Homo sapiens: one gene and its partner. The protein of the gene in region 1 purifies or fractionates together with the protein of each later gene. This does not show direct contact. Each region holds a gene or a part of one and is shown in the gene's direction. Other genes may lie near its edges.

Evidence for each region.
Region 2: the proteins of MIOS (region 1) and SEC13 purify together in Homo sapiens (affinity purification with mass spectrometry; 7 studies listed by BioGRID and IntAct, with this or other methods). This does not show direct contact.

What each region holds. Positions count from the first base shown.
Region 1 is NC_000007.14:7,604,868-7,609,451, forward strand, and holds the end of MIOS (GATOR2 complex protein MIOS), read left to right. Parts: intron 1-1,074; coding exon 1,075-1,204; intron 1,205-2,128; coding exon 2,129-2,225; 3' UTR 2,226-4,065; downstream 4,066-4,584. UniProt on the Homo sapiens protein: As a component of the GATOR2 complex, functions as an activator of the amino acid-sensing branch of the mTORC1 signaling pathway. The GATOR2 complex indirectly activates mTORC1 through the inhibition of the GATOR1 subcomplex.
Region 2 is NC_000003.12:10,304,113-10,311,147, reverse strand, and holds part of SEC13 (protein SEC13 homolog), read left to right. Parts: intron 1-5,455; coding exon 5,456-5,589; intron 5,590-5,991; coding exon 5,992-6,115; intron 6,116-6,975; coding exon 6,976-7,035. UniProt on the Homo sapiens protein: Functions as a component of the nuclear pore complex (NPC) and the COPII coat. At the endoplasmic reticulum, SEC13 is involved in the biogenesis of COPII-coated vesicles.

The sequences.
Region 1 (4,584 bases):
TGTAAAGTAGTGTACATATCAGATCTATATTTTATTTATCTCTTCCCCCTTTCCTTTTTGCCCTCTCATTATTAATTGTTGGTGACCCTTTCAGGAGTAATTCTAGTGTGTTTACATCTTTAATCATTGAATTACTTACACATCCTTTCACCTCATATCATTAGCAAAAACGGATATTTTTTAAAACTATTCCCGACTGCAAGATTATCCTTTTGGTCATGAAAGCGTGACCTGCAATGGTCCAAGCAAAATTTTTAACATAGTTATCGATGCATAATGTCTTTATAGATAGCAATTAAGTAAAAATATTAAGTCTAATTAAGCAATTGTTTAAGTTACACAAGTCTCATGAAGTGCATTGGGAAACTTTCTGCTTTTTCTCTTCTTTGAAAGGGCTTGTACAGATGAGAATTACCTGTCCCTTGATAGATTTTTTTTTTTTTTTGAGACAAAGTCTTGCTCCATCACCCAGCCTGGAGTGCAGCAGTGCAATCTCGGCTCCCTGCAGCCTCCAATCCCCAGATTTAAGCAATTCTTGTGCCTCAGCCTCCCAAGTAGGTGGGACTACAGGCATGTGTCACCACCCCCGGCCAATTTTTGTATTTTTAACAGAGACGGAGTTTCACCATGTTGGCCAGACTGGTCGTGAACTCCTAGCCTCAAGTGGTCTGCCCGCCTCAGCCTCCCAAAGTGCTGGGATTACAGGCATGAGCCATCACACCCAGCCCTACCTGTTCCTTGAATGTTAAGTAAAATTCACTTGTAAACTGGGCCTGGTATTTTCCTTGTGGAAAGATTTTAAACTACTGATTTGGTCTCTCCAAAGTTTTAAATTTAGATTGTTTCTTAGTGGGTTTGGATTTTTTTTTCCATTTTTATATTGGCTATTAAAAATGTAGGGGAGCTTCTGTCATTCAGTTTCGCTTCATCTAAACTAGAACCTACCATCAAAATTGCTATTTCAATATGATGTGTGATTCATATTTGGAACACAGTTTTAGAAATGCTTTTTGAAAGTAACTTTAAATAAAATATTATGATATAGTTAATGAAGATCATTTTATTTTGTCATAGGAGGAACCAAATCAGATGAAAAAGTGGACTTGAGCAAGGACAAAAAATTAGCCCAATTTAACAACTGGTTTACATGGTGTCATAATTGCAGGCACGGTGGACATGCTGGACATATGCTTAGTTGGTTCAGGTAATCAGCACATTTCTTCTTTGATAGGCTTGGAGTTATGGGGGATAACACAGATTGCTTCTAAATAGTTTGGGTTTATCTATTAGCATTTAGCCAAAGTATGAATTTTATTTTTTACTGTCACTCATGTTAACAAAGGTGGTGTGAACATGTCGTGATTAGATATCCTATGTAACCTTAAACTATAAAGGTAATACTTATGTAAGAACTAATTTAAATGTTTTGTATGAGTTAAATGTTTGAATAACATTATTTAACTTTATTCGGGGAGAGGATATGTTTACAGTTTTTACACTGAATATTCTGTAATTTACCATGCAATTGAATTACTAATGAAATGTTAAAAGAGCATATCATACCTCTGCCTCAGTTCTCTTCTAAGTAAGCTTTTTATGTAGTCACGCAATTAAGACTGTCAAGACATATTTGAATTTCATTTTGAATGGTGCCAGTGGCCCTGTGCTCCTGGTTGATACAGCATTTATACCCAGTTTGTCTTACTAGCTAATTTAAACTCTGAGCACATCCCTGTCACCTTCACAACTATAAATGAAATATCTTGCCATATATGTAGAAAGTAAAAGGTATGTGTTTCTTAACTTCTCCCTAAACTTCAGCTTGGCAGTAGTTTATAATTTGATGCTTTTGATGCTTTTTTTCTCTGGGTTTTAGTTTCTATATTTTTCCAAATGCCATTTTGAAAAGTTGCATTATAGATAGATATAAGTAAACAGGTGGGCACAGTGGTGCACACCTGTAGTCCCAGCTACTCAGGAGGCTGAGGCAGGAGGATCACTTGAGCCCAAAAGTGTGCGTACAGCCTGGGAAATATAGGGAGACCCTGTCTCTTAAAAAATAAATAAATAAATAAATGTATGTCTGTCTAATTTGGATTTTTAACTGTTATTTGACCTATTTTTTTAGGGACCATGCAGAGTGCCCTGTGTCGGCATGCACGTGTAAATGTATGCAGTTGGATACAACAGGGAATCTGGTACCTGCAGAGACTGTCCAGCCATAAAATGTTACCACCTTAAGAGAACCCTTCAAGTGTGGAGCTTTCTAGTAGGTGTCCTTCATAGCTCAGAAACATACCTCAGAACAAGCCATTCATGACTTACCTGTAATGGGAAAATAAATCATTCTATCAGATCAGCAGTTTTGATGTTTGAGTGATTTTGATATGCTTCACAGAGACAAATGCTGCCAAAATAAACATCGAAGTATAGACATGAGTTCTGTTCAGCAGGTTGAAAAGTCTGATTTAGAAAAACTTTCTAAGTTTTGGTTGAAATTATGAACACTCTAGAAGCAGAATTTCTGGAAGAGCCAAGAACAGACTTTGAGCCTATATCTTCAAAGCTGAAACTGGATATCTTTCAATAAAATATGTGCACTTTTAAAATAAAATGACTAATTCTGTGATTCAGACAATAGTTTTAAGTTCAGCTGTGCTTAGATTTCTTTCAGATTAATTTAAAATTACAGATTTTTACTTTTAGAATTGCAGAGCCCCTATCCCACACTGGAGAATATTTTTTATTACTGTCTGTTATATATGTGTCTATGTGTGTGTGTATATTTATGTGTGTATGTATAAATATGTATTTTTTAAAGGAGCCTTTTCCCTCCTTTGATTTTAAGATAAGCAATCTTTTGGCATAACATTATCGTCTTCCTAGAAAAGCCAAGATGAAGAATCTATCTTACAACTTTTTCTCTTCAGTAGAGAAAAACATGTACCATTTCAGGTGAACATACAAAATTTTCACTTTCTACCTTTTGCCTTCCAATGTCCTGATTTGTCTTCAAAGGTTTTTCTCCATATTAATTTGTCATCTTATCCTCATCACCTGAGAACATTTTACTGCATACAAAGTCTATGCAAGATTATATGTAACTAGCCATTTAGTATAATCTATGTCAGTGTTTCTGTGCTGTCAAATTCCGTCCTGATTTGGAATACCATACCTTGTTCTTTCCAAGGTAGACTAGGAAGTGTTGGGGAAATGGGGTCACTTCAGAGACCATTTTAGATGTAAGTTTTTAAATGTAAGTGTTACTGGGGCTAAGTCAGGTACTTTATTTAAAACATTTTTTTTTCTCATTTCATAGCTAGATAGTTGTAAGAGAAATACAAAGAATTTACAAGATGCTTCTCTGTCATCTGCCATATGCAGAGGGACTGAACTAGGAATTTTGTAGTTGAAGCTGTGTTCATAAAGAGTAAATCTTATTTTATAGATTTTGGAGAAATAAAACAAGAATTTTAAGAGCTTTCGTATTAGCAGTTTTGCCTTATAAAAACTAAGATTTGTCAGATTAGTTTGAGGTGTAACCTAAATATTAAAAGTAGATTAAATTTATTTTTTACCTTGAGTGTCTGATACATAAAACCCTTTTCTAGGAAAACATTGGAAGTAGTACATATTTACTCTAAATGTCTCACCTGCATGACAGTCTTTTCAAATGAAAGACATGGTAATTGCAATTTTTTTTTAAAGATTGCTATTAAGGGTACTTTTTCCAGCCTTCATTTGAGTAAATCTTAATTGATTTCATTTTATTAACATATACCCTTTACCTTTAATATTTCATTTGAAGTGTTCCTTTCAAACTTACTGTCTTAAATATGAAAGTCAGCTTTAAGTAATGTCAGACTCATATGCATTTTCATTCTCATTAGCTAAAGTAAAATGTAAAATTATCTCAAATAGTTACAAGTTTTGGAAATACAGTATAAAACATGAATGTAAAGTCTATTATGTAATATGCTTATTTGTAATCCTAATATATGAGGGTGACATTTTTAAGATTGTATGTATGTGTCAACCTCTTAAATGTTTTCTGTGAAGCCCAAACATGCAGTTTATGTCTCTGGTGTCTGTTTTGCATTTCAGTGTGCATGGACAATCAAATTATTTTCTCATTTTTATCACTAAGTCACTGGTATTTGGGTTTATAAACTCAACAAGATACTTTACCTAAACATGATCAATAGATGTGTTTATTAAAAGTGTTTTTATTATTTTTAAAAGATTGAATAAATCTGGGTTGAAGTCATTGTATCTAATCAAGAAATTATGATTCCTTTACAAATAATCCACGTGAAGTAATATTGGTGCTTTTTTTGATGACAGACTTCATACTTAATATTAGAAGTAACATTCCTTTTAGGCTCTGTTTTTCAATTCAACCCACTTTCCAGAATAGTTATTATCCTTTAAAATGGTATATTTTAAAAGTAGCTTCCCATTGTCAATGCTTCACATAGTAAGTATTTAAAAGAATGTAGTTCTTCATTTAATTAGATGACTCAATTTCAGTCATTCATTTGACTGCAAGTAGTTAAAGCATGGTCTTTGAAACATAAATTATAA
Region 2 (7,035 bases), on another chromosome or scaffold:
ACATCTTTATTGTGTGAAAGGAAACCAGAGTACCAGGAGAGAGCCCACGCAGACACAGGGAGAACACACAGACTCCACACAGGCAGGGGCCCCCGCTGGGAGTTGTTTTTTTTTTTTTAATCTTGTCAGCATTATAATGAAATGAAATTGAGGATCAGTTGTACATAGAATGAGACAATCTGTGGTCTTTTGTGACTGGCTTCTCCTACTTACTATAATGAGTTCAAGTTTCATCCATATCATAGCGTGTATCAGCACTCCATTCCTTTTTATGGCTGGATAATACTCCATTGTGAATATAGACATTTTGTTTATCCATTCATCAGATGATGGATGTTCTCGGCCTTATGAATAATGCTGCTATGAACATTTGCAGATAAGTTTTTGCATGAACATATGTTTTTAATTCTCTTGGGTCTATACCTAGGTGTGAAATTGCTGAGTCATATGGTAATTCTGTGTTTAACTTTTTGAGGAATTGCTAAACTGTTTTGCAAAGTAACTGTACCCTTTTACATTCCCATCAGCAGTGTATGAGGGTTCTAATTTCTCCACATCCTCACTAACATATGTCTGTCATTTTGGTTACAGCTGTCCTAGTGAATGTGAGGTGGTATCTTATTGTGATTTTTTGGGTTTGTTTTGTTCTGTTTTTTTGAGACGGAGGCTTGCTCTGTCACCCAGGCTGGAGTGCAGTGACATGATCTCGGCTCACTGCAACCCCCGCCTCCCAGGTTCAAGCAATTCTCATGCCTCAGCCTCTTGAGCAGCTGGAATTACAGGCACACGCCACAACACCCGGCTAATTTTTGTATTTGTAGTAGAGACAGGGTTTCACCATTTTGCCCAGGTTGGTCTCAAACTCCTGGCCTCAAGTGATCCGCCCACCTCAGCCTCCCAAAGTGCTGGGATTACAGGTGTAAGCCACCACACCCGGCCCTTATTGTGATTTTTATTTGCATTTTGCTAATCAAAGATGATGGTGAGCATCTTCTGGGGGCCTTTGGAGAAATGACCAGGAGGGGTTTGCACTCTGTAACACCGAGTGAGTGGAAGCGGCCCACAATAAGAAAGGCTGAAGGGGCGGGAAGAAATCTGAGCTCTGTGATCCTCCAGAGCAAGCCTCTGGGACAGGGCCCCTCAGGAGGAAGAACTGCAGGAAATGAAATCACAGTTGAGCTGGATAGGGACACAGGAAAGGAAGGATGAGATGTAGACCAATGTGGGGAAGAGGAACAAAGACAGGAACTCCTGAAAGCCATCTCCCACGTTTTTTAACACCACACAGAAACAAGGGAGAGTTCTGAGCTTAGACTTTCCTGAGCCTTTCTTATCAGGAAAACTCATCTCACCTAAAAATAACAGAAAAGTATTTGAAGTGAAATTGCATACAGTTGTTATATAAGAAACAAGAATATGCAAAATAACCTCCCTGCGGACAATGAGAGCACATTAGAAAGACATGCCCACATAACCGAGCCAAGCTGTAACCTGCTATTTCAAATCAAGCCAGGTGACATTCTAACAATACAAAACAAGAGAGAATAGTGTAAATCAACTTTTTAAAAATCAGAAATAAGGTGACAGAACTCAGGAAAGAATTAGAATTAAAAATCATTTCAGAAGTAAAGAAAGACTAAGACGAAATGCAAGTGTCGATGAACACAGCAGATCCTGCCTGAAAAGGATAAACAGTGTGAAAAAGGAAACATTTCAAGAGCAAAAAAATGAAGAGGTAAAAAGGTTTTGACCAAAAGTAAAGACAGGCAGAAAGGTCAGACATACGAATACCAGGAGTCCCTGGAAAGGAAAACAGAATACCAAAAAGTAATCCAGAAAACTTTCTTAAAATTAAAAAACAAAGATTTGAAACTTGAGATTGAGAGATCATACCCCACACTTAACAATATCAGCCGGGCGCAGTGGCTCAGCCTGTAATCCCAGCACTTTGGGATGCTGAGGTGGGCGGATCACCTGAAGTCAGGAGTTTAAGACCAGCCTGACCAACATGGCGAAACCCCGTCTCTACTAAAAATACAAAAATTAGCCAGACGTGGTGGCGCACACCTGTAATCTCAGCTACTCGGAAGGCTGAGGCAAGAGAATTGCTTGAACCCGGGAGTCAGAGGTTGCAGAGAGCCAAGATCACGCCATTATAATCCAGCCTGGGCGACAAAGCAAGACTTGTCTCAAAAAAAAAAAAAAAAAAAAAAATCAAGGCCAGGCGTGATGGCTCAGCCTGTAATCCTAGCACTTTGGGAGATCGAGGTGAACTCCTGTTTGAGGCCAGGAGTTCAAGACCAACCTGGCCAACATAGTGAGACCCCGTCTCTAAAAAAAAAAAAAAAAAAAAAAATTCAACTCAGCATCACCAACAAAAAGATATAATTCTAGTAAAATTATTAGACTTTAAAGAAAATTTTGGGGGGTTCTAGAGAAAAGGAACCTTGTGACTTAAAGGGGAAAGACAATTAGATTATTGTCAGACTCTTCAATAGTAAGGATTGGTGCAGAAGAAAAAAGAATAACATGTTTAAAATACTCCAGGAAAGAAAGTGTGAGCCAAGGATTTATAACCAGGAAAATTGACTTTGAAGTTCACACAAAGACTTATACACAAAAGGTTATAGCAGCTTTAATAGCCAAAAACTGGAAATAGTCCACATGTCCATCAACAGGTAAATGATAAGTTGTGATATATCCATACTTTGGAAATACTGCGAGCAATAAAAAGAAATGACTGCAATAAAAAGAAATGACTTAACAAAATAAGATGAAGAATAAATTTCAAAATAATTATGCTGAGTGAAAAAAAGAAGAAAAAGGACACACTGTGATTCCACTGCTGTAATATCTAGGAAATGCAGCTGAGCAGGCCCATGGTCACCACGATTGGGGGCTGCAGGATGGGGAGATGGATTACCAGGGGATCCGAGGAAACTTTTGGGAATGATGGGCATGTTCCTTATCTTGATTGAGGTGATGTGATGATCCTACAGGATATATTTTTGTCAAAATTCACCAAATCATGCACTTGATATGCAGTTTATGTCAATTATACTATATCAAAGCTGTTTTTAAAATTAGCTTTTGAGTGTAAAGGATATGAACTATTATCAATATGCAAGAATTCAGGGACTATTGTTTCTAGGAGCCCTTCCTGAGAAATCTACTAGAGGATACAAGTCACACAACTAAAATGACTACAAAGACTTCAGCATAAATATATAGTTACTTGTAGAGAACTAAGACGAAATGAGGGTTAAAAGGCTGGGCCCAGGGCAGGCACAGTGGCTCACACCTGTAATCCCAGCACTTTGGGAGGCTGAGGCAGGCGGATCACCTGAGCTCAGGAGTTCAAGACCAGCCTGGCCAACATGGCAAAGCCCCATGATGTGGTTTGGCTGTGTCCCCACCCAAATCTCATTTTGAATGCCCATGTGTTGTAGGGGGTAACCAGTGGGAGTTGAGTCATGGGAGGAGGTCTTTTCCATGCTGTTCTCTTGATAGTGAATAAGTCTCACAAGATCTGATGGTTTTATGAAGGGGAGTTCACCTGCACAGGCTCTCTCTCCCTTTTTGCTGCCATCCATGTGAGATGTCACTTGCTCCTCCCTTGCCTTCTGCCATGATTGTGAGGCCTCCCCAGCTACATGGAGCTGTAAGTCCATTAAACCTCTCTTTTTTTTGTAAACTGCCCAGTCTCAGGTATGTCTTTATCAGCAGCGTGAAAATGGACTAACACACCCCGACGCTACTAAAAATACAAAAATTAGCCAGGCGTGGTGGCACACACCTGCAGTCCCAGCTACACGGGAGGCTGAGGCAGGAGAATCACTTGAACCTGGGAGGTGGAGGTTGCAGTGAGTCAAAATCGCGCCTCTGCACTCCATCCTGGGCAACAGAGCCAGACTCTGTCTCAAAAAAAAAAAAAAGGCAGTGGCTCACACCTATAATCCCAGTACTTTGGGAGTCTGAGGTGGGAGGATCACTTGAGCCTACGAAGTTTGAGGCTGCAGTGAACCATGATCTTACCAGCCTGCACTCTAGCCTGGGTGACAGTGAGACCCTGTCTCAATTTTTAAAAAAAAAAATTGTTAATAATAAATAAAGAGGAGAATCAGTCATCTTTGGAAAGTGATAGAACCAGTTCAGAAAGAATCAAGCGTTTATCCAGCCTTTCCTTTTTGACCTTGTATTAGTCTGTTTTCTCGCTGCTGGCAAAGACATACCCAAGACTGAGCAATTTACAAAGGAAAGAGGATGGAGAACTCACAGTTCCACGTAGCTGGGGAAACCTCACAGTCATGGCAGAAGGCAAGGAGGAACAAGTCACAGCTTACGTGGATGGCAGCAGGCAAAAGAGAGAGCTTGTGCAGAAAAACTCCCATTTTTAAAATCGTCAGATCTAGCGAGACTTATTCACTATCATGAGAACAGCATGGGAAAGACTTGCCCCTGTGATACAATTACCTCCTACCAGGTCCCTCCCACAACACGTGGGAATTCAAGATGAGATTTGAGTAGGGACACAGCCAAACCATATCAGACCTCTATCCCTGGGTAACTGAATAGTTAATGAGAAGAAGTGTCCCTATCTGGAGCATTCCATGGAATAAATGACAAAGAAAGGATGGAATTAGAGTATCACCATTTTACAAGCCCCAGTGAATTAAGAGAGGCCTGAGTTATTGACAGCTGTTAATATAAGAGACAATCTAACGTGCCTCCTGATGAGAGAACGCACCAGCTCTAGTCTTGCCAAAGGGATCACACCTGAGTCTGTCCAGTCTTGGCTCCAGCTGACAGTTTTCAGGAATTCAGAGGAACATATTGAACTGCATATGAAGCAGCAAAACCCAGACCGAGAGACTAGGCTCTCTTCAGCAGAAAAATTGTAAGGAAAAAAATCAGAGGAGGAATCTGCAAAGTAGGAGATGTAAAAAACATCCAAAAAAATGTTTAATGGACAAGACTAAACTATAGTATCTAGGGGTGCACATTTGGGTGATAAAATGGGGGGAAAATGGGTTAGAAGTTAGGGCAGTGGTTACTTATAGTGGAAGAGGGAGCTGTGATTAGGAAGGGCATAATGACAGGGCTTTTCAGGCAGGTGGCAGAATTCTTGTTTCTTGATCTATTACTTTATAATAAAAGATTTTTCTTAAAAAAAAGCTCCAATGTACCATTCTTTCATGTGTTTAGAAAATGTCCTGTTTCTTAAACTTGTGGGAGTTCTTAATTTCTACTTTTAGCGCACACTGCAGAAAAATGCACACACTGTTGGGATCCTTGAGGGAGAATTCTGAGCAGTGGACCCCATGATGAGTGCTTCATGTCAGCCTTCACACACACTCCAGTCCTGAGAAGCGGAGGGGAGAGGGACAGCAGGCTTGGGTCTGCAGAAGCAGTGTTCTCTTGCAAGGCAGAGTCACCATGTGTCCCATCTTTACAGATTGGCTGCAATGCCGTCAGCTGGGCCCCTGCTGTTGTACCTGGAAGCCTCATAGACCACCCATCGGGGCAGAAACCCAATTACATCAAGAGGTTTGCATCAGGTGGCTGTGACAACCTCATCAAGCTGTGGAAGTAAGTAGGGATGTGTGGCCTTCTCTTTGAGGGGACACTTCTACCCTTTACCCTACTCACCATGACTCAGCCACACTCACAAGAAACAAGGTCACCTTTCTTTCTCCCTCCTGCCAGTAAAATACTGTTTTCAATCTGTTGGAGGACATCCTTGAAAAACAACACAACACCTGTTCACCTAATTCCCAACTGTTGGAGCTGACTCTTTGGCTGTGGAAGCAGAGCATTTTCTGGAGGGTTTTTTTTACAGCTGGGGTGAAGGGAATAAAATGCCACAAACTCCATGAATGAAAGAAGAAAGATGGAATCGCTTCTCCACCCCAGGCAGAGCCTGTTGGGTTGGGGAGGAGTTGAGGTGTGGGAACGGCCCCCTGCTGATTCTCTTTCTGTCCCCACTGTTAGGGAGGAGGAGGACGGCCAGTGGAAGGAGGAGCAGAAGCTAGAAGCGCACAGTGACTGGGTTCGAGATGTGGCCTGGGCCCCCTCCATCGGCCTGCCCACCAGCACCATCGCCAGCTGCTCCCAGGTCAGCCCAGGGCCATGAGTATCCCTTGTCATTTAGTCTCGAGTCAGGCCCATCAGCTCTTAGTCTCCTTAGCAGAAAGTCCTCTGGGAAGGTAAAGGGAGAGCAACAGGCACCTTTGGCCCAGAGCACAGGGAGTCAGGTCATTGTGTGGGGAAGTCTTGGTCAGAAGCCACAAGTGGCCTGCCTCCACTGAGATGAGACAGCTACAACAGAACCGGCACCAAGAAGGAGGCGGATTCGGGATGAATTTTCCCTTCTGACCCATGTGAGACTAGGGCGCCGAGGTGCCCAGGTGCAGTTCCAAGTGTTCCCAAGCAACGATGGGGTTGGATGGGAATTATACGCTTAGCTACCAAGCCACCCTTCCCAGACAGCAAGGACGGCCAAGGGTGAGCCTTCAGTTATACACCACCACCCTAGAGGGAGCCAGCTAGGCCTTTCACATCATGGGAACCTGTTTGGTTTGGTTCTAAACTTGGGATTTTTGTGCTTTTTTACTTGTGCCTTCTCATTCTTGGAGCTTGGTTTTTGGAGAGCTCTGCCCATTCAGTTGAGAAGGTATAGACGGCCAGTGGAAGTGACTTGGCAGGCATGAGGAAAACCCCAGAGAAAATCTGAGTTAGCAATGCAGACAGAGTCCACCTCCGAAACCCGGATGAGAAAAGGAATCCGGGAGACTCTTAACCAGTGTGAAGAGACAGAAACAAAGCTGTGGACGCCCCAGAGGTCCTCGGCTCCCCTTTGAATCCCCCACCCTGTTCCTGCAGAGAGGTGCCGGGTGGCTCTAGACTGGGAGGACATCACATCACAAACGCAGGAGTCTTGACTCCACCTCCTGACTCTATCCTGTTTCTTCCTAGGATGGTCGTGTGTTCATTTGGACCTGTGATGATGCCTCAAGCAATACGTGGTCCCCTAAA